2 separate regions of the Homo sapiens genome follow, and region 1 is reported to be linked to region 2. Evidence: microRNA targets listed by miRTarBase, many of them from high-throughput screens and not tested one by one. Region 2 holds a microRNA gene; the other region holds the end of a gene's coding sequence.

The links. Region 2 holds the annotated microRNA hsa-miR-2054 (CUGUAAUAUAAAUUUAAUUUAUU, at 3,809-3,831, shown strand). A microRNA usually pairs through its seed, bases 2 to 8, with sites in the 3' UTR of a target mRNA and lowers its output. Matches are read on the target gene's strand: a 7mer-m8 pairs with bases 2 to 8, a 7mer-A1 pairs with bases 2 to 7 and ends in A, and an 8mer does both.
Region 1: the mRNA of GLRX5 is a reported target of hsa-miR-2054. Seed matches in the 3' UTR shown: 7mer-A1 at 833-839.

Annotation. Positions count from the first base shown.
Region 1 is chr14:95,543,483-95,554,646 of GRCh38, forward strand. GLRX5 (glutaredoxin 5) reads left to right here. Exons shown (of 2, transcript NM_016417.3): 2 at 465-1,232. The coding sequence ends at 643. Among named protein-coding and RNA genes, the nearest start is that of GLRX5, 14 kb to the left of the region's middle. RefSeq lists a cis regulatory region at 2,337-2,627 and an enhancer at 4,301-5,176.
Region 2 is chr4:125,503,451-125,514,648 of GRCh38, forward strand. MIR2054 (microRNA 2054) reads left to right here and starts at 3,809; the gene lies at 3,809-3,857.

The DNA.
Region 1 (11,164 bases), not on the chromosome of region 2:
GAAATGAAGTTGGTTGTGACATTTCTTCAAGTTTTGTTTCGCTTGAAGCTTGACTGGTAGATGGAGAATTTTGGCCTTATGTATCTTATGTGACTTGCATTACCCAGTCCAGTCCTCTGCCATTAATCTAAGGTCCGCAATGTATCAGGTATTTTACTGAGAATCTTGCTTACCTAATTCTCACAAAAAAAAAAACCTTGGGAGATGAGGGTGGAAACAGGATGAGAGGTCAGGTGACTTGTCTGAGGGCTGACGGTTTGTAATTGGAAGAGTCAGGGCCTAACCACTGGTCTCTTTGACACAAAAACTCATGCTCTTAGTGGCAAGCACAGTGTTCTCAAGATTGGGGGAAGCCAGGGAGGGACAGTGGGTTGTCTGCTACTAGTGGGTCAAAATTACATATTTAGTCATGAATGGTTCAGCTTTTACCATTTAAATAACAAATAAATGTTCTTTCTCCATAGGCATTAAAGACTATTCCAACTGGCCCACCATCCCGCAAGTGTACCTCAATGGCGAGTTTGTAGGGGGCTGTGACATTCTTCTGCAGATGCACCAGAATGGGGACTTGGTGGAAGAACTGAAAAAGCTGGGGATCCACTCCGCCCTTTTAGATGAAAAGAAAGACCAAGACTCCAAGTGAGGGCGGCCAAGTCCTCGCTGAGCAGAGAGGGAGCCGTTCATGTCAGAGACTCACTGCCAGAAAAGCCTTACCCATTTTGGTTTTCACTATTGAGACCGCAACTGCTTGCACTGATCATTTTGGTTCGTGAGCAGTTGGTGATTTTAGTTGGTCTGGTGTTCGGGCTAAGAATATTTTATTGTGGACTTAATTACAACCACTGCACTGTAATGATTCAATGCTGTATTATGATATTGCTGTAAACAAAATTCATTCTTATATTGTCACTTATTCTTTGCCTGATTCAGAAGTTAAATAGGAGCTTTGGAATCATTATTCATGACCCCTCTGCAAATGTGTCAGTCTCCAAAGAGAGTATCTCCCCCCAAATTTTGTGTAGCTTCTTTTGTTATGGAAAATGGTGAACAAAAAAAGAAACTGTGATAACTGGGGCGTTGTTTTTTAAAATAAACTCCAGCACAGGGATGCTGTGCATGCCTGAGTTGATTCCGAAGTGCATATGTCTGTAAGGATTTGGAGTGCCTGCAGTGTTTTATGTGTGGGAAGTAAGGGTGAGTCTCATATTCTTCTATTAAATTTGCCACAAGAATTGCCGTCGAGCCCTGGTCTACTTTCTGGGGGAAGCAGCTGTTTGGATGGTGAGTCAACTGTGCAGCTGGAGGCGTGGGTGGGCTGGAGGGAGCAGAGGTGGGTGAGGCCGGAGGAGGCGGCCCCACCTGCCTATCTCTGGAGCCCTGTGCTTGGCACACTGCTACAGTTAGATAGGGAGACATCGTCAACAGTCCACCGAGCTAGGGGATTTAATGAGTATTTTACTTCTTAAAAAGTGGGGACTTTCTAAAAGAGGACATAATTTGGAATTGTGGCAGAGATTCTCCCAGTGTCTGGTGTCTTTATAAGACCTTTCCATGAGTTCTGCATCCCGAGACTGGGGCCTGGTAGAGCCTGGGGCTGTGCAGAGGCCCATGGGAAGGAAGCCCGCCTGGTGTGGCATGGAGGCTTTGTTCATCTCCAGGGACTTAAAGAGAGCGCTTGTCTAGAAACATATCTTTACGGTGGCAGAGGTGGGAAGAAGGATGCATTTTCTCATAATAAGGGCAAAAAGGACAGAACGGCTCTTTTCCCCAGAGCTATTCTAGAGGCTTGTTCTTCGTTGCTTATTTAATCTCCTTGAGTTCCTCTCGAGAATACTCTAAAAACAGACTTCCTCCATGAGGTCAGGCTAGAACTGATGGAGTTGCCCCTGCTCCCCTTCCCCAGAGGTTTTGGAAGGGGAAGGAAAGCTGTAGCCCCACGCCCCCACCCTGGGGACTGCCCCATCAGATTAGAGCACTGCTCCTCAGCAGTCACCCACCTCACCGTGTTAGAGAAAAGAAAAATAGATTATTCTCAGAAAAAGGTTATTACATTAATTGTCTGCTACATCCCATGATACCTTTATGTCTTCTGTAAGCTAAGGGACCTTAGGATCTAAGAGGAGGTTAAAACACATCCATTTGAGCCATTTGGTTTAGAAATGAGGGAAGCAGGAGCACTAGAAGGATCTACCTTGCCCTGTAGACAGAGTCACCATGAATAAGTCACTTCATACTGCCTCTGGATGGATACAGGCCGTGGACCAGAGGCCGGGTCTGCAAAATTGTCCCTTGCCATCACATCTAGTGAGGAGTGTGATACGTTTTCACAATTTTGCTTCTTTTGGCTTTTCCTTGAATCTGCCTGTGTGCCCTTAGGTTTCATCTGAAAAGCGAAATGATGAGAAACTTATTGATGGGAAGCATCAATGTAAGAAACCTCTCTAGAATATGATTGGAGCTAGGAAAAGGCTGCCAAGTGAATAATTTGACTCATGCTTATGAGTCATAGTGAGATCATATCAAAGTCACTAGGGAACTTATAAGTTGAAGGAATCACTGGGCTCTACGAGGAATGTAAGTCTTCTTTCTCAGAGTTAATTAATAATTTTTTTCTATATGCCTAACAAATCTCTACCAAGTAGAAAATTGAAGATGCTATCTAGTGTAAGTCTGAATAATTTTGATGGTCTGCATAATTAGAATTCACTGTGAGAATTAGAGCAGAGACACAGAGGTTCCTTGTGCAAACAGCAGTATCACGCACCTATTTAAAATGCAAGGACTGCTTCTCGGGTTTAAATGCACCTATTTAAAATACATTAGGCCTGTATTAGTGTGATTATATTGGATATTTGTCATAGCTTCAGGGTCTGTGTGATTAGACCCTTAGAAATCAAGTTATTTTAGAAGATTAAACATTTTATGATTTCAGGTAGTTTTTATTTTTTTCATGGATTGGTAGTTACATAAATGGCATTCTGCTTCATTAAGCTATGAGTTTTAGAGATATCTTAGGACAGAAGATAACTTTTAAGTTGGGTTTCGTTTTGTTGGCAGTGTTTAATTCACTTGTGTAGAATCTGGGAACCGAAGCTTTCCTTTAACTTTTCAAGCCATAGCAGCCAGCTTAAGAGAGAATTCTTGTTACATTTGTTAGGTTTACTTAGATATTTTGACATAAATTATATTTTGAGAAATCAGGTCCCTTGTTTGTGACAGGAGGGACTGTGCTAAGGGTAGAGGAATGACTTGTGTCGGCAAGGTTTCATTGGTGCAGATTGATTGATTGATTGATTGATTGATTGATTGAAAAAGGGTCTTGCTCTGTTGCCCATGCTGGCGTGCAGTGGCCTGATTATGGCTCACTGCAGCCTTGACCTCCTGGGCTTAAGCAATCCTTCCCACTCAGCCTCCTGAATAGCTGAGACTTCAGATGTGCACCACAACACCTGGCTAATTTTTTTATTTTTTAGAGACAGGGTCTCTGTGTTGCCCAAGCTGGTCTTGAACTCCTGGCTCAAGCGATCCTCCCACTCTGGCCTCCCAAAGTGTTAAGATTACAGGCATGAGCCACTGCGCCCAGCAGAAACAAATTTAAATGTGAGGTGAGAAAGCTTTCATGTGGGTTCCTGAGAGCCACCGACAGGAAAAGATATATATTAGGGGATGGCCACACAAAACACTGATTGTTTTAAAAATTTAACATTCCACTTAAGAATTGTTTAGTAAATCTAAAAAGCAGCTTTAAATTGTGCCTAAGAACCATATAATAGCTACTATGAAGCAGAGCAGAGGAATGGTGAAGAGAAAAGCCATTTTAAGGTCCAGGGGCTTACAGAGACGCATGGGGTGACCAGGTGGACTCTTGTAAAGCCACATTCCTGTCTTATTTCCTGAGAGTAGCATCACTTTAGGTCTGAAAGCTATGTGGGCATTTTGCGTGAGGGGAGCATTGTTTTCTTGGCGGTTGCCCTGGGAGCCCAGTGCAGGTGAGCTGAGGGCAGAGTCTCCCTTAGGGCAGAGATGCCACTGAAGGTGCACCTCACCTCAAAGATCCCTATCCTGGATTCAGTCAGAATAGCCATGTTATTCTCCTCCTTGTGAACCTCCCGGGGCACCCGGTTGTGTCACAGTGAAGTCTCTCCTATCCCAGAAAGCCTTCCCTGACCCCAGACGGAACAGACCCTTTAATCCACTCTACAGCCCTGTTCTTTGTTCATCACTCCAGGACCTAACTGCCTGTTACTTGGCTTTATTCAGATCCCCTCTGGCCAGCATACAGAGTGCCCCAAAAAATACATTTAGAAAAGAGTGAAGAATTTCCTTTCTTCATTCCTTTTGGATTAGTCACAAGAAATGTTAGGCTATTACAGGTTACAGCCTCGCAACACCGCAGTAGCTAAGAGCCGGGACTCAAGTCACCCTCCCTGGGTTTGCATCCCAGCACTTGCTGGGTGTGCTACTGACCTCAGACGACTTAGTAACCTCCCTTCCTGCTTAAGTGGGCAAATAGCAGATGCCACCGACCTCAGGCGTGTTACAAGCTTAGATGACAGCACCCTGTCGAGACCATGGCTCATAATGAGCTCTCACTGTAAGTTGACCTTGACAGTTAATGTTGGATTACACCTGGACTTGGTACCGCGCTGTGGTATCCACCACCGTTCGGAGGGTTTAAGGGAGCAGAGAAGGACAGGCTGATGAACACAACATCGTTCATGTTTGGTTGCCCCTGGAACATAGAGACTCATTGTTGAAGGCAAAGGACAGATCTAATCCTTGTGATGATCTATCAGTGGACTGCCCAGCAGCCCTAGGGGACGGCAGGGCCTTCAGCCAGAAAGAATTCCCTGTAAAGTATCTTTCCTACGATTATAGTTTGACTTACTGCCACCGAGTTTTATTTTTAAAAATACTGCTTCTATTTCATACCAAAGTGGAGAGTCTTTTCTGAACCGATATGTTAGACAGTTATTGTGTTGAGTTATGCTTCAAAGAATGCAGTTTAACCTTGAGCTAATTCTAATTTAGCAGTAGCAAGGATTGTGACACTGGGTTCTACTGTACCTCATTAGCCATTTTCACAGGGATTCGTTTTGCCAGAAAAAGGAGGTAGAAATGTTCGCCGGTTCCTAGGAAATTTGGTGAGCAAATATGGAAAGTATTTCCAGATTATTGATGTGTCTTCACTAGTCCTGAGCAAGCTATCAGCTTTGATCATCACCACCACCGATGAAGCAACCTTCCTGGGGAGGCCATGCTGAGCCCGAGTCTATGGGGACCTCTTCTGGCTCCAGACCCAGGCTGGGCAGAGGCTGAGACTTCAGCTGGGTGTCAGATACCCCTCACCCCTTGCCCTGATCTTGGGGGCGTTAGGGTGCTGTCAGAGTCTGACATAGGTATTAAAATATTTCAAATCTCAAGGAGAACTTCAGAGTTCTTCAGTACATTTACAAGTAAATTGTAATCCTGGGAAACTAGCAGCACACTTCCTGTTATTCTGGCTTCTTAAATTCTTTTGTTTTTTGTTTGTTTTTGAGATGGAGTCTCTCTCTGTTACCCAGGCTGGAGTGCAATGGCGCGGTCTCGGCTCACTGCAGCCTCTGCCTCCTGAGTTCAAGCTATTCTCCTGCCTCAGCCTCCTGAGTAGCTGGGATTACAGGCACCTGCCACCATGCCCAGCTAATTTTTTGTATTTTTAGTAGAGACGGGGTTTCACCATGTTGGCTAGGCTGGTCTCAAACTCCTGACCTCGTGATCCACCCGCCTGGGCCTCCCAAAGCCCTGGGATTACAGGCATGAGCCACCGCGCCTGGCCTTTAAGTTGTTTTTTAACTTTTTTCCATGATTCCTTAGTAAAGTCTCCTTAAAATGATTCTTGGGAGAGCAGAGGGCAAGGGGCAGTGTCAGTTACACCTGACTAAGTTACTTCAGTTCAGGTGCACTTCGTACAAAGTGTGGTGGGATGTCCATGTCCTAATCCCTGGAATGTGTGACTGTGTTACCTGGGGTAAGTTTAAGCTGTGTTTAAGTTCAGGATCTTGAGATAGAGAGATTGTCTTGGATCACCTGGGTGGGCTTAATGTAATCACAGGTGTCCTGGGCAGGAGGGAAGCAGAGGTTGGAGTGATGTACTCTGAAGAGGGCGGAAGGGGCCACAGGCCAAAGATCGCAGGCAGTCTCTAGAGCTGGAAAAGCCAAGGAAACGGATTCTCCCCTGGAGTCTCCAGAAAGAACACAGGCCATGATTTTAGCCCAGTGAAAGTCATTTTAGACTTCTGACCTCCTGCCCTGTAAGATTAAAAATTGGTGTTAAGCCACTAAGCTTGTCATTTGTTACAGCGGCAAAAGGAGACTAATACACCTGGCTGCCTGGATTTTATGGTGGATGCTTACTTGGTATAAGCAGACAGGGGGAAGGGTCAAACAATTATTGAGCATTTAGATCCGTAATTTGTTTCTCACCAAAGATCTGCAAATGTGGGATATTCTCTCTTCCTTTCAGATGATGACACAGAGACTGGGAGGGGGTCAGGTTACTTGTCCAAGGTCACTACCTGGTGGAATTTGAGCTGTGATCAGATCCATATTGTAGCACCCTTCGGAGGGCCGGCTCAGTGAGTGCAGCCGCTTAGTGCAGCTCTGGCTGTGGTGTCCAGAGTGTTCGCCCTGCAGCCCTGAGAAGAACTGAATTTGAGCTTCAGTTGCCTGTTGAAAGAGCCAGGGAGGCCAGGAATTTTGGAAGTTGCCCCTGGCCATCCACTATCAAGTATGTGAAGGAAGCAGAGGGTCCCACCTCTGAGGTCAGACAAATGGAAGGTGAATGCAAATGATGCCTCCTTGCAAATGATGCCAGGGAAAGCCTCCTGGGCCCCGTGTGTTGTGCGGACAGGTGGCCAGGCCAGAGGTCCCACTGGACTTCACTCTGAAATTCCAGACAGCAGGAAGTAAACAAAGTGCTTTACGAGCGAGTTCCCGCGGTCTGCTGGTCTTTCCCTGCACTTCCGTCCGACCTCGGTCACAGCCCTGGGTGGGGTCAGATATTTCTACCCATACTCAGGGCCACCTGTTGCCCCAAGTTCTCACTTCCTGGCAGTGTCCCTCTGCTAGCCCTTGCTGCTGCCCCCACCTTCCTCTGTCTGCCCGCCACCCCCCAGCCTTTTCCTTGGTCACAGTTGTCCTTTTGTTACCTGCGGTTATCAGAAACATGGTCAAATAGGGTATAAGCTTTTAGTATCCCATTCATTTGAAATTTTAACCTCGTTTTTAATAAAACAATGCATGCATATAATTAGTCAAATGATACTTTAAAAACTACAGTAATAATGAAAAACAGCACTCTCCTGCCTTTTGATCCATGGGTCCTGCTCTCTATAGGAAACAAATTTCCATTTCTTAAGCAGTTTCTTCTGTTTCCCTCCATATTTCATTTTCCTTTCTCTTCCTTTCTTTTTTTGTTTTGTTTTGTTTTTTGAGACAGGGTCTCACTCTGTTGCCCAGGCTGGAGTGCAGTGGTGCAATCACGATTCACTGTAACCTCGACTTCCCAGGCTCAGGCGATTCTCCCACCTCAGCCTCTCAAGTAGCTGGGAATACATGTGTGTGCCACTACGCTCAGCTAATTTTTTGTATTTTTAGAAGAGATGGGGTCTCACTGTGTTGCCAGGCTAGCCTCAAACTCCTAGGCTCAAGAGATCCACCCACCTGCTGGGTGGACCCCAAAATGCTGGGATTACAGGCGTGAGCCACTGCACCTAGCCAATATTTTTTAATGTGCTTATATTGCTATTTCTTTGCTAATAAATCAGATATTATCTAATCTCTTTGCCATTTTGATAGATAAGAATGCTCTCATATAATCATCAATCTACCCTACTTCTCACTGTTCCCTATACAATTAGCGCAATCATCAGTCTTTACATTATTATTGACAATATATATGTTAGTGAAATAAATATATATAAATAAGCAAATGCTGTATTCCTTTTTTTAACTTTTATCTCCATTTATTAAAAATTGCCTTTTTTTAGTTGTTTATTTTCTATTTGATTATTTTGTATTGGATTTTTATACAGTGCACAGGCATCTGCCAAATACCTGTCAATAAAGTTTTTCAACAGAAGCATCAGATAACTCATAGTAGCCCTTGCCCCCTGCCAAGCTCCCTCCTGGAATCCTCCACCCTCCAGCTGCCCTCTGATGTCTATCATCATCCTTGCTCTTCCTGTGTTGAGTTTTCTGTTCCCTGTGTCCCGCATCTTGGTCTTTGTGCTTTATTCCTTTGCTCTGCTGGAGCACATCCTGCCAAAGCTTCCTAAAGAAGATGCATGGGTGGTTCACTTTTTGAGACCAGGTCGTTGGAAAAGGTTTCCTTACTCCCATACTGTTACACAACTTGGGTCTGCCTGCTCAGCACAGTAAGACCAGATATCCACACTGAGGCTTCGCAGCAGTAGAAAGGAAGCCATTTATTTGCAGGGCACCATGCAGGGAGGACCAGGAAGCAAATGCTCAAATCCTGACTCCCCTGATGGCTTGTGGGTAAGGGTTTTTAGAGGTGGGGTACATTTCAGGAAAGTGGAAGCTACAGGCATAATCATGAATCAATACATAGAGATTACACATTGGTTTTGGCCTTGAAGGGTGGGATATTGTGAAGGAGGGGTGGGGCTTACAGGTAGGTTCAAAGATGTTCTGATTTGCAATTGGTTAAGGAAGAGAAGCTTTGTTTCCAACTTTGGGGTCCGTAGAAAAGAATATTATCTCAGGCTCATGGGTGTGGCTCCCTCCAGGCCCCTCAGGAAAAAACTTAGAACAAAGAATGAAGTCCAGACTTCAGTCCCCAGTTCCCTTATCTGAGATACACGTGCCAGTGATTTGTTGGGTGGGGGTCCGGGTTTCTAAAAAACTCAGACATATGTTAAGATGGTATCTCAGTTTCTATAGGGAACCAAATATCTCATGGCTAACTTCCTGGCTACTAGCTTAGGCTGCTATTACCTTCTTGCTCACCAAGTTGCCTACTTAATTCTTAGAGCTAGCTGGTGCCTCGAATTTCCCTTGGAAGCTTCATGGGACCAGGGGGCCCTGTTTTGTTCCCTGGTGCACTCCAAGTGCTTAGAATCACGCCCAACAGAGGTAGGAGCTCGCTATTTACTTATTGAATGGATAGACGGGTGTTAGGGCCACAGCTGTAGCCAGACATGGCTCCTCGTAGGCAAGTGAGGGGCGTGGCTGAGAGCACAGAAAGCTCTGCCATGACAGCAGAGTCTGCCTGGGCATCGGGAGGCACAGAGCGGGGGTCTCCTGGGGCTGAGGGCTATTGAGAAGCGATGCCAGCATGAGTCTTAGAGGACAATGAGCCTGGGACCACCAGGCAGCAGCAGACAACGTTCCTTAGTAGGTCATCTTTGCTGTCACACCCTAAGGAGATGGTGTGCAGCTGACAGTTGTGGCCCTGTCTTAAGTGGATAGGGTCCCACAAGATCATGTGTTGTGCTCAGCAGTGATTATGCTGGTAGAACCTGTACCTTTACATTGAGCCAGACCTTGAATGTGTGGCAGGCCCTAGGCATGTCGCACTGCAGGTGTGTGTGTTGCTGAGTTGCAAGTAGCCACAGGACCCCAGACACACCAGCACCACACTTCGACCCATGCACTCAGGGACCCTTGCCCTCTCTGGTTGCTCCCCTGCCCGCAGGACAGCGAGTCAGTGGGTCCAAGGGCTGTGATCACCTGAGCCCTTGCTCTCTTCCTCCCCAGACCCTAATACAGGTAACAGGGTCTAGGAACTCCCTGCCCCAATGTTCAGGATCTGCGTCCAGGCCCATGAGCTTCTAACCCAGTCCATGCTCCTGAAGAAAGGCAGCACCACCACCCTGGGTGTAAGGACCCCTCTGCGGGAAGGGTGTGGGGTATTGTGGACAGAGCCTGAACACAGAGCTCTGTTGCTCACACTCAGACCCCTCTGGGTGCTGCACGTGTGACCCAACAAAGCAGGTCTGGACGCTCACTGCTGGCCGAGCCCAACTAACAAGAGTGACATCTGATAGAAAGAAAGTGAATTTATTACCCAAACTAGTAGAGGGGAGGCAGCCGAATTCCTGTCCAAATTAACCACTTCAATTTTTAGCAGGAAGGCAAGAGTTTAAAAAAGAAAAACTTGATAAGGAAGGCATGGAAGACTTGGGCTGAGCATAATGTCTGTGTGTCTTGTTTTGGTGGCTGCGTCAGGTCCCAGTCCACCTGGACCTCGGGCTGACATCATCTCCATAATGGCCGGGCTGTTCATCAGCCGCCTTGAGGTCATCCCTGAAACTTTGCAACTGGGTCTCCAGACTTGGTCTGTTTCAAGATCAGCCCCTGGAACTTCTAAGAAGGCACACAATTAGATACTAACATACAGTTAGACAAACGTAAAGAGAGTATGGATGGTGGGAAAGGGAGGGGCATGGAGTCTATTTTGAGGCTAAGGAAAAAGGCTTTTGCAGTTTCCCTCAAGATTGTGTCTTGAAACCCAAGAGAAAGGGAAAAAAGTTTGAAATGCATTTTGAAGTTAAGCTGCCCAGTTACACATGGAAACACGGTTGCTCTCCCTATACCCGCTTAAGGATGTGACCTGGGGTGTCTCTTGCCTCACTTTGCATGCTTGTTTATGCTTCTACCTTGGGGTCTCTCTTGCCTCACTTTGCATGCTTGTTTATGCTTCTACCTTGGGGTCTCTCTTGCCATTGCAGGGGAGAGTATTTGAGGAACAGTTCAATGGGATTTAAGACTGTTTGAGAGGAACCCACAGAGGGGTGGGAGATCACTGGCTTGGGGCATTCTGGGCTGAGCCGTGGGCTTCCTTTTGGTTCTGTCTCTGGGTATGTGTTCTTTTGGTAGGTCTGTGCCAAGAACAAGCTTCACCACTAGGATGGCTGCCTGGGAGCTCTGGAAAGAGAAGTGGACAGCCACAGGACTGGCTATTTGTATCTACAGGCAGGTGGGCTCAACTTGGATGTAAGCATCTGCAGGATTCAGCAGCCAGAGGGACACTGGGACTGGGGCATTGGATTTGGTATCAATCACGCTAACCAGTCTCTTTTCTCCTCCTGCCTCCACAAACCAGTGGTGTGGGCTTTTGTGAAGGAGTCTGCCCCCTTCCTTCATGAAGTCACAGTGG
Region 2 (11,198 bases):
TAAACTCTGGTCTCTGAGTTCAGTCAACTTTTCTACTAAGTACATCAATAACTTTAAAGCTGTCACAGTTTTCTCTTGCTTACTAGGTCCTTTAACTTTTGCCTACAATGTATACCATGTTATATTTTTGCTATGTCTTCCCACAACATGTCTTCTATATCTGGCTCTTATCCTCCACTTCTCTTTACTTAGAGTGTGGATTCTGAATCAATATGCTTATGTCATTACATTCTATTTGCTATTCCTTCATGAGCATAACGATGATGATAATATCAACCTCATAGGGTGGTATGAAGATTAAATGGACTGATTTACATGAAGTTCTTAAAACGTAATATGCCTTCCACATAATCAGCTCCATTAGCAATGAGGAGGATGAAGCTGATCATTTTTCTTGAGACATTTAGTAAGCACCTGTAATGATTTTAATCCTGAGGCCAGGGATTCTATTTTCAGACTAGTAGAATCTGATTTGATCTCTAGTCAAATGAATTGGAAAGATACCAGACTAATCCCTTAATACCCTTGGTATAACAGTATAAGAACTTTACTCCAGAGAAGAGGCAAATGAATTTGAAAGACCTTTCTGATATCATATGAGTGTCAAAGACAGTTCATATATAAGGTTCTAAATGGACAAGCTCAGGAATTTATATTTAGAGTATAATATGAGTACCTGAGACATATTGGTCACTGGACTTGAGGTAATGAATTCAAATTTTCAAGTATTTCTAATTGAAAGTACATTCTTTTCAGAAAGGCATTGCGTTTGCATTGTTTTACCTTTTTAAAGCTAAGATTTCTCTTGTATTGATTATTTTCCCTTGCCATTTGCAGCTAGAAAAGCTGCACTTAAGGCAGAAATGACAAGGCAGTTCAGTTAACACAGTGATTTCTAGAGCAGTCAATTTATTATCTTTATCATGTGCCAGGTTTATAAATCATCATATGGTCTCTGGGAGAATGATTGCTCCTGTGAAGGGGAATAATGTGCATATATTATTATTGCTTATCTATTTTCATTGCGAATAATAGAATGCTTAAAAAGAAGTCAGTTTATTACACAGTGTAGCTTATTTAGAGAGCTATATTGTTATAAAATCCTAAACTTTCTTGTGCCCAAAGCTGATAATCTAAAAAGTCATCATCTTATACTAACATCAGTGGAAGCTGAATTTTTTTTGATACAAAGAAGCATTTATCTTCTGTTAATTCTTATAATGATAGTAAAATATTATACTACAATTCTCCTTTCTTCCTTCATTATTTGATTGCACATGGAATTATTGTGTTTATTTCTTTTATTCTTATTTCCTACTGAGCATAGTTTAGTCCTTTGACATTTCAAAATAATTATAACTACACCTGAAAAACCCACTGACAGGAAAGAAAAAAGAGAACACTTGGTTCAAATGGCATTTGAAACACAATATCTAAAACACATTAACAAAAAATGTCAGAGCTTCTACTGTTGAAGCGTCTCTGTTTTGTGTGTGTTCTGTGTGGGTGTGTGTTATGTGTGTGTGTTCTGTGTGTGTGTGTTCTGTGTGTGTGTGTTCTGTGTGTGTTCTGTGTGGGTGTGTTTTGTGTGTGTGGGGGGGGTGTTGTGTGTGTGTATGTGTTCTATGTGTGGACTCGAGAGGCTGAAGGTGTGCTCTCTTGGCTAGGGTTAGAGTAAGCCCTCACCTTGAATTTCTGTGTTATTCTCATCTTCCTTTAAAAAGTTCTTTGCCACTACAGTAAGTTGTTCAGTTTTCTGAATTACTGTGCCTTCAATCCTCCCGAAGATTGAGAGGCATAGTTATATAGAATACATGAAAGCACATACGTAGCCAGTAAAGCAAAATACAAATAGATTTAAAATTAAGTCACAGGTGCCTTATTTTCAGCACTCAATTCTTGCATGTGTAGATTCTTTCTTCCAAATCTGTCTGAAGGCTATTTAAATTATTTCTTAGTTGAAGAGACAATAATTTAAGACATCAAATTAGAAGTTGCTTCAAAGTAATACATTACATTTTCCTATTTTGGATTTCTAGTCCCAAAATACAAAAGGAAGAATATATTTTGAAGTGTAATTACTGTATTTCTCTCTCTCTCTTTTTGGCTAGGGACTATGGATCATTAGAGTCTAGTATCCTCAAACAAGAAATAAAGCAGATAGAGATAGGATATGATACAGAGACGAAGATTTACTCAAGTATTAAACTTTGTTGCAAATGACATATCAGTTAAAACACATGTACATTTTACTCTTTTTCTTCTGAGTTTAAAGACTCAAAAACATTTCCTTCAGGCACTGGGAATGAGCTCCTGGAGCCACGTCCTAACTTTAGCAATAGCCGGTTGCCAGCCCTAGTTCTCTATTTTGGAGCTTCGTTCCTAGTCTTCATTGTGTTGAGTGACAAATTTGCAGGCTGTATGGATGACTTCATAGTTGGAGCAATGTCTTTTTGTGCTAACACTGCTTTGGTATTTAGTAAACAGTGAGATGCTCTTAAAATATTGCCAATGATTCTAAAGGAGTCCATCCTAGGATTAAAACATGGGTTTAATACAGACATTTCTTATTCTTACCTATTTATGTACAATTTTGGGGCAACTATACCATTTCCCCATTTCTAAAACTTTTCATTCATTTATTCAAAATTAAATACACTTATTTATATAATTTATCCATGTATTTATCAATGTGACTGAGTAAAAAAAAATCAGAATAGGAAGTGAACTGATGCTCATTAAACTCTTCTAAATGTAGTCATGTAAGTATTAGACCAGAGCTGTAAGCAGAGTAATAGTCTAACAAAAATACCTATTCTTACCTCAATCTTATGGAGAGTATTAGAATGATAATGTCAGTTTCTTATGACTTTAAGCCAGATTAAGGGACATAAATATATGACAGTATTTTTTCATAACCTACTGTAATATTTTCTAATTTTTTGCTGTATTTACTCAAAATTTTTCTGAGCTTCTTATGAACTTTATTTCAGGACTGGGGGAAAAGTTTTATAAATCGGTTTTAGAAAAATGCTTAAAGAATTGACCACATTATAATACAGATTTTTGCTATATGTTCTTGCACAAACTATTCCTGTAGGGAAATGTTACTTCTCATCACACTGACATCAAGTTTGGCCATGTGAATTTCTTTAGCTAGTTAAATGTGTATGGAAGTAATATGTGACACTTCTGAGCAAATATTTTCAGAGCATCCTCTAGATCCTCCGTCATTACTTTCTTTCTGCCATCAGAACCACTTTAGTAGAGATTTCCCCCTTCCAATGGGGTATTGGAATGATGAGGATGTGGAGCAGAGCTGCAATGGGCATGAACATGAGTGACAAAGAAACCTTCCTTGTTTAAGCCATTGAGATCTTGGAATGATTTGCTACTATAGCATGCCGTTGTAACCTGCCTGATACAAATAAGCTAATAAAACAAAGATTTAATTGCTCTGAATTTCAAGTTTAATACTATAAGATGGTGTTAGAACTATACCAAAATGGAGATGCTTTGTGGTATCAAAATGTTAGAATAATCCTTTATACTCTTTTACTACTTCAGATTATTTCACTAAAATATCTTGGTGTATAAATTATATAAATATATTGAGATGGAAACTAATAATTCTACTTTGATCTCCCAATAGATGAGAGCAAGTGAGAATTAATTTATTTGCATTTTTCAGTGGTACAATTAGCCATCTGTTGATTGGCTTATTAATACTCCCATTGAATCCATGAGTTTTTGCTAGGTTTCCTTTGGCAACAATTAAGAAGCACCAGTGTGTAGATTCTCCTTCTTCCTGTAATATAAATTTAATTTATTCTCTATCATTAAAAAATGTATTACAGAGGAGCATATTAAAATATTCAACAGAGGGTAATTAGCTGTCTATGTTTTATATGCAGTAATAATGCTTGAGACTGCTTCTAAATTTAGTAAGTAAACTCAGGCTAGAGCAACACAAACTGGTTGTCTGAAGATAACAATTAATTCAGACAAACCAAGTGACTGATGGTCCCTTGTAGACTTGAGTTTTCTCCTGTTTCTCATATTGCTCAGTTTTATAATCAATAACAGAAGCAAAATTACAGAATTTTCTTTTGGTGAGATATAAATTTCCCCAGTGACTCTCACTGAAAGGCAGAGCAATCAGCAATGCACCAGATAATCTGATAGCAAGTATAAATTTGCTATATTTACATAAACATATTTATAAAACATATATTTATATAAACATATTTATATAGACATATATTTATATAAATATCAATAAATAAAATAAAATTTAAGTTAGCTAGTTTATTGTGTTATTTAAAAAGTCAAGGACATGAAGTTATCAAAACTAAAAGACTCAGAGCAAAACTTCTCCAAAAGAGTCACTTCATGATTAATCGGTCTCTAACCAGATTTTTTTAAAATTGTACTTCTTGGGGTAAAAGACAATTTAATCCTGATATCAGCTGATCTTTTGATTCTCCTACTTTAATGGCTAATTAATCACCTATTTTATTTCCAAGGCACAGATATAATTTGAGTCTGTTGAAATTTTACAGGTTGGGAGCAATCTAGATAGTTTAAAAATGCATACGTATACATTTGGTATAATCTTTGCAGGCTTTGAATTCTAGTGTCTTCAACTAATCTGGACTTCTTGTACGGAAATGTAATCTTTTCTGCCTCTAAACAATTGACAAAGGGCAAGAGTTTCTAAGGAGGAAGAAAAGAAAGTTGAAGAAAACCTGACATTTTGCACAACACTGGTTGAGAATAGGCAAAAAAAGAAAAAAAAAAAAAACATTTAGAACAGAACTGAAAACCCATTAAGTGTTCTGGGTCCTAGGGGATACCCATTGCTAGCCTGCTCAGCAGAAGTTTTTCCATTACAATTTTTTGTAGATAAGTACTTTAATAGTAAAATAGGTCGTTGTTTTCCTGCGACTCTCATTAAGCTATTCAAAGAAAACACTTATTCATTTTCCTTTATCATTACCTTCCTTAGTTAGAAAAGTCTGGATTTCAGTTTTTTTTGGTTGCTTGTTTATTTTTGATTTATATTAATTTTCCCTTATGAAGAAATCAATATAAGTCCCCCGTGATTTCTTGAAAGAATATATCTAAAGACATAGCATTTTGTTTTTAGGTGGGAAGTTTCAGTAAAATTGTTTTGTTTGCAAAACTACATCAAGTAAAAAGAGGTTCTGGAATTTTACATTTCATAGCAGTTTTCCTAAATAATCTAGAGAAAATGATTCCTAACTTTTACTTCATTAATAAGAAATAGTCTCACTTTAAGAAATAAAAAGATTTTAAAGCTAGACAAAAACAGATATTTTTGTAAAAATTCAAGTCAATATAAAAGCAATCCTTTCAAGAAATGAAATATTTTTCATACATTATTGTGAAAGAAAAAAATTCCTACACATTTAAACCAAGCATATGTATCACTCATTAAACAAAATAATGTAACTTCACTATATTTATACATTGCTGAAATATATTTAAATATTGAAATATTTTCTTTGAGCAAATATAGCCCACATTTTAAAAATAACCAAATGAATCTATAAAATCATAATTTAAAAAGTAACAACAAATGAAAATTAGATGTCAAGTTATTTTTTAAGAAAAAAGCAACATCCAAAAGCTTGGGTCTTCCTAATGTACTGCACAGAAAAACATCATATGCATTTTTATATGGTGCTCATATTATGATATGTTAACACGTGGTCTGCAAAATAAGATAAGCTCAAATTCATTACCTTCTGATAGTACCTGCCAGCAAGGTTGCTATGAACAATTTTGAATAAAAAAGTAATAAGACAGGCAGTAATATTGTTTGCTGAAACTAATTGAACAATAGGATGTTATTGGATCAGATGTAATTAATCTAATTGACTCTTGTAGAATTAAGTATAAGAAAAGACCCTTGGCACAAGTTGGTCAGTTGGTCAAAAATGACACACTAAGATCAATTTGTAACACTTCCAAAAAATATTAAATAATTCCTCCTTGTAATATTGTGTTAGTCTGTTCACACACTGCTATGAAAAAATCCCAAAGATTGGGTAATTTATAAAGAAAAGAGGTTTAACTGACTCACACTTCTGCATGGCTGCGAAGGCCTCAGGAAACTTACAATCATGGCAGAAGGGGAATCAAACATGTTCTTCTCCACATGGCAGCAGGAGAGAGAAGTGCTGAGCAAAAGGGGAAAAGCCCCTTATAAAACAATCAGATCACGTGAGAACTCACTCACTATCAAGAGAGCAGCATGAGGGTAACCACCCCATGATTCAGTTACCTCCCACCTGGTCCCTCCCATGGCATGTGGGGATTATGGGAACTATAATTCAAGATGAGATTTGGGTAGGGACACAGCCAAACCATATCAAATATTTTTCCTCATCAAATATATAGATGGTAGCATAATAATCACTCAATCTCCTGAGAGTTCAGCAGTTGGTGGTAACACAGTTCGTGGTATGGGTGGGTTGGTCATGTTTGAAGTAATCCATGACTTAATTAGCACTTACTAATAAAGGTGAATGATTTATACCCTTTTGCGTTCATCACTTCCTTTCTATATTCCTTCAGTAAAGGGCATTCTGTGTAAAAACAGAGAAAAGAGATAAAGCTGAAAAAGCCTGCATGAATCATATATTGTGGGTACTTCCTAGTTTCTTGTTTATACATTAACAATCCTAAGTAAGACAAGAAGAGTCACTCTCCTAAACCATTCCCCAAGTAAATACATTTGCCTTCCCAGATTCTAATCTGATCATTCATTTATTCAACAAATATTTATTCAGTGCCTCATTTATCCAGAAGACCAGGGTGAAGAAGACATAGAGACCCTACTTCACACATCTTAGAGTGCGGAGACATAGCAAATCTCTGAGTTATGCAGGAGTTTTGTGTATGCCAGCAAATGAAAGACAGCAGTGTGTCTACCTACATTTCCTATTGCTGCTTTAACTGTTTACCATGAATTTAGGGGCTTAAAATGACAAAACTTTATTATTTTACATTTCTGCAGGTCATAAGTCCAAAATCTGTTTTACTGAGCTAAAATCAAGGTGTCAGCAGGCCTGCATTCCTTCTGAAGGCTCTAGGGGAGAATCCATCTCCCTGCCTTTTCCAGCTTCTAGAAACCACCTGTAATCCTGGGCTCAAGGTGCCTTACTCCATCTTCAAAGTCAGCAGAGATCAAACCTTCTCTCTGATCTCTGCTTCCATGTTTACATCTCTCTCTGACTCTAATCCTCCTCCATCTCTCTTATAAGGTTGCATGTTTTTATATTAGGCCCAACTGGATAATCCAGAATAATTTCCTATCTCAAGATGCTTAATCACATCTGCAAAATCCCTTTCACATGTAAGGTATTACACTCACAGGTCCTTGGGATTTGGATATGGACATCTTTGGGGACTATTATTCAGACTACTGTAATGGCCAGTGATCTGTGATTGAAGAGTGAACAGTGGCAGAGCTTCATGAGTGAGGCAGACATCAGTTCTAGCTTGTTCAGGCTCTTGTATTAAGAATCGGTTTTTTACTAATGCAATGAAGAATCCTGGAAATGTTGGTTGTTTGTTCTGCTTAAATTTAAGAAACAGATTTACATGACCTAATTTTTGATATGATTTATTGTTTTATTAACAATAGATTAGAGTGAAGCAAATTGAAGAAAAAGGCTTATTTGTTTTCTAGATTTTAATATATTCATTTGGGAATGAAAGTGTTTGGAAAATGAAATAGGCAATTATTAAACTGGTGTTTGAGAGGTAAAATATTTTATTTAGTATGCTGTAAAAAGGAGCATTGACTTTTAGCCTCTATACTAGAAAAGTTACTAACTGTGAAGTTTGGAAAATTAAGGTCATAGTGCACATTAGATTTTTCATGAGTTTAGAGTTCATGATAAACTCTAAAATTATAGGTTGCTGCAGACAGTTAATTAAAAAAATAGTTCCAACATTATATAACTAATACAAATTACTCTAAGACACAATAGTCACAGCAGCGGTTCTCTGCCATAATTTGAATTGCCTCTTGAATTTGAATATGATTGTCTCAATTCCTTTATTTAGTTAAATTCTCATAAAATTTTGAAATGCCCTTCTAACTCTTCTGCGCTTGGTTTTATGACGAAATATAATCATCACATAAGTTACAAGTTGACAATCCTAAATATCTAGGTCATACATTTTCTTCATGTGATTTATTTGGAAAACATTTTGCCTAAAATTCTGGGATACAGTAAATCCCTGAGATGATTATCACTGGTTGTCAATGTCCTAAATTCATCTACTGAGAAAGAGCACCACTAGGTAGTAGCAATATTTACTGAAAGATCCTGTGCTGCAAACTCAGTGTGATTCCTGCCATTTCAAAGAGCAATCCTCTCCACAGCTGTAATGATTCTCTCACCTTGTAGCCCGCTGCCAGGTGATTTCTCACAGGAGAAGTTACGTTCACTTCTAGGGCATGGGTTCAGCTCTGATCTATGTTGACTAATTTGAACCATCTGAAGGCTGATTGTTGACCTCTGCTTAAAAGAAAATAAAAACTCAGTGGTTTCGAAACAATTTTAGACAACTGAAACTGAGGAAACTGGAAAAAAAAGGCAAGGCATGTTCTACCATAAAACTGTGGATGGTATCATGAATGCCACACACCTGCCCTCTGAAAATTCTTACCAGACTCTTATGGCTTGCAGTGTCTAATTAAATTCCTTAAGGGGCACAGCAATGGAAGTTCGTTTGCCTGTCTTGATGTACCTGAAGCAGCATTAATGTAGCTACTTAATGCATATGACATAGTTAGATTGGGTATTCAGTCCTAGATGAATGATCATCCACATTAAAAATCTACGTTATGAAATAAACACATGCTTAAAAATAATGCTTAGATATAAAGACGCTTCAAAACAAACATAATATTGGAAGTGTGCTGTGCCTTTCTGGCCACAGTCAACTTTTGTTTGCATTCCAAGTTACCCTCACTGCATTGAATACTTAGACAGGAAAAAGGTTGGGCATGAGCAGAGGCATTTTCAAGTGCATCAGGACAATTTTCCTTTGGTCGGCTTTTAAGAAAATCAAAACAATTAATAAGGAGGCCCACAGGAACAGTTTTTTGACATTTTGAAAATTTCACGAATGTTAAGCCCCACGATGCAATTTCTTTTTTCTACCTCTCAACAAAATTTAAGGATCTCTTACAGAAAGAGGGTGCTTAAGAATATGCAACTTCTCTGGGTAATCAGTCCTTACCTAGTGATTAAATAGTCTGGCTCCAAACCACCCAGCTCATTGTTTTTTTACCCACAGTGTGAAAGAAAAATCATCTTTGTGCCAACCCCACATCATAAAAAACCCTAACAATGTGTTGAGTGTGACTTAAGAACCCATAATGCATTTTTCATGAAGGTAAGGAAAATCCATTAAGGAGATTAATTTGTGTTTGGAGAGCCTATCCCTCTACAGCCAAAAATATTTGTTCTGTTAACTGCAGTTTGCTGATACACTATGATAGTGCTGCAGCCTAGTAAAGACATTGCTATCTATACCATTATATTTTCTGCAGATGGATTGTTTATGAATTATTAAATAGCTATTTCTTGAAGGAAACTGTAGGTTATAAAACTGTCTTTTTTCCTTTTGCTAATTATTATAGTTAATGGTGTTAAAAAGGCTAATTGAGGCCTAATGTTTTCTTCAGTAACATTTATGTTAGGGAAACCTCCTCTTTCATACCCAGGTAATGTTCATTTGCTACTATTCAGAAAGAACTTTCTAGGAAAAAGAAATATACTATCTATAATGCATTTTATAATTGGTTACCAACATTGTGCATTTAGCCATTTGATAACCTTGAAGAGAGGGACTTAAACGACTTGAGTTAAATTCTATAGTTAAACTTTTTGAAATAATAAGATAGACCTTTTATGTTATAAATAAATCACTTGAGTCACACAAACTCATTATGGTGAGATGTGATCCAAGGAAGGAAGAAGATTGTACAGTTTTATTCTTACACCACCTCCCAATGATTCAAATCATCAGTGGTTCTCAGCTTTGCTCATGGCTATTATCTGAAGCTCTTAAAGAATACAGATGCTTAGGTTCTGTCCTCTTAGTTTCTGATCTCACTGGTCTGGGATAGAGCCCAATGATTAAGAGTTTTCAAGTTTCTCCAGGTAATTCCAGTATTCAACCAAAGTTGAGAACCATTACACTGGAAAAAGAATAAAAGATTCTATGGGATTTATTTTCTAGTAATGGACAGAGGGAATACAAAAAAAGCAAAGTCAGTTGTTTCTTTTTTCAACATTTCTATCAACCAGCCTGGTTTCATAATTTTCTTCTTAAGGCTCTTCTAACTATGGATTATTAAGGAGGAATATTGTTGTTAACCAGGAATAGGAAGCATATGAGATCTGAGACTCTCAATTTTATAGCTGCTTTGTGCCTCAGAACTCTGAGAAGGAATAAGGACTATTACAAACTTTTTGACCAAGATGTTTACTGTACAATGACACACACCTGGTCAATCTAACCTAAGCTCCCCTCTTCGGGCTATATTCTGATGCAGGGATTTTTCTCCCACAGAAAGGGTGACCTTTAATTCATGCCAAGGTGGCACAGAAGATAGTGATAGACCTCCATGAAAGGGAAGACTCATGTTGTAGATTCAGTTATTAGGTTAGCCAAGAGAAGGTGCAGTTTCACCAACTTATATGCAGGAATACCTCAGAGATATTGTAGGTTCAGTTCCAGAGCACCACAATAAAACAAGTAATAGAAACTTTTTGACCCCCAAGTGCATATAAAAGTTATGTGTACACTATATTGTAGCCTATTGTGCAAAAGCATTATGTCTAAGAAAAAATAATTTGCATATGTTAGTTGAAAAATACTTTATTGCTATAAGATGCTAATGATCATCTGAGCCTTCAATGAATCATAATCTTTTTGCCAGTGAAGGATCTTGCCTCCATGTAGATGGCTGCTGACCAATCAGAGTGATGATTCCTTAAGTTGGAGTGGCTGTGAAAAAATTTAAAAATAAGACAAGTTTCTCACATCAATTGACTTTTCCTTTCATGGAAGATTTCTCTGTAGCATTTGATGCTGTTTGATAGGTAGCATTTTATGCACAGTAGAAATTCTTTCAAAACTAGAAT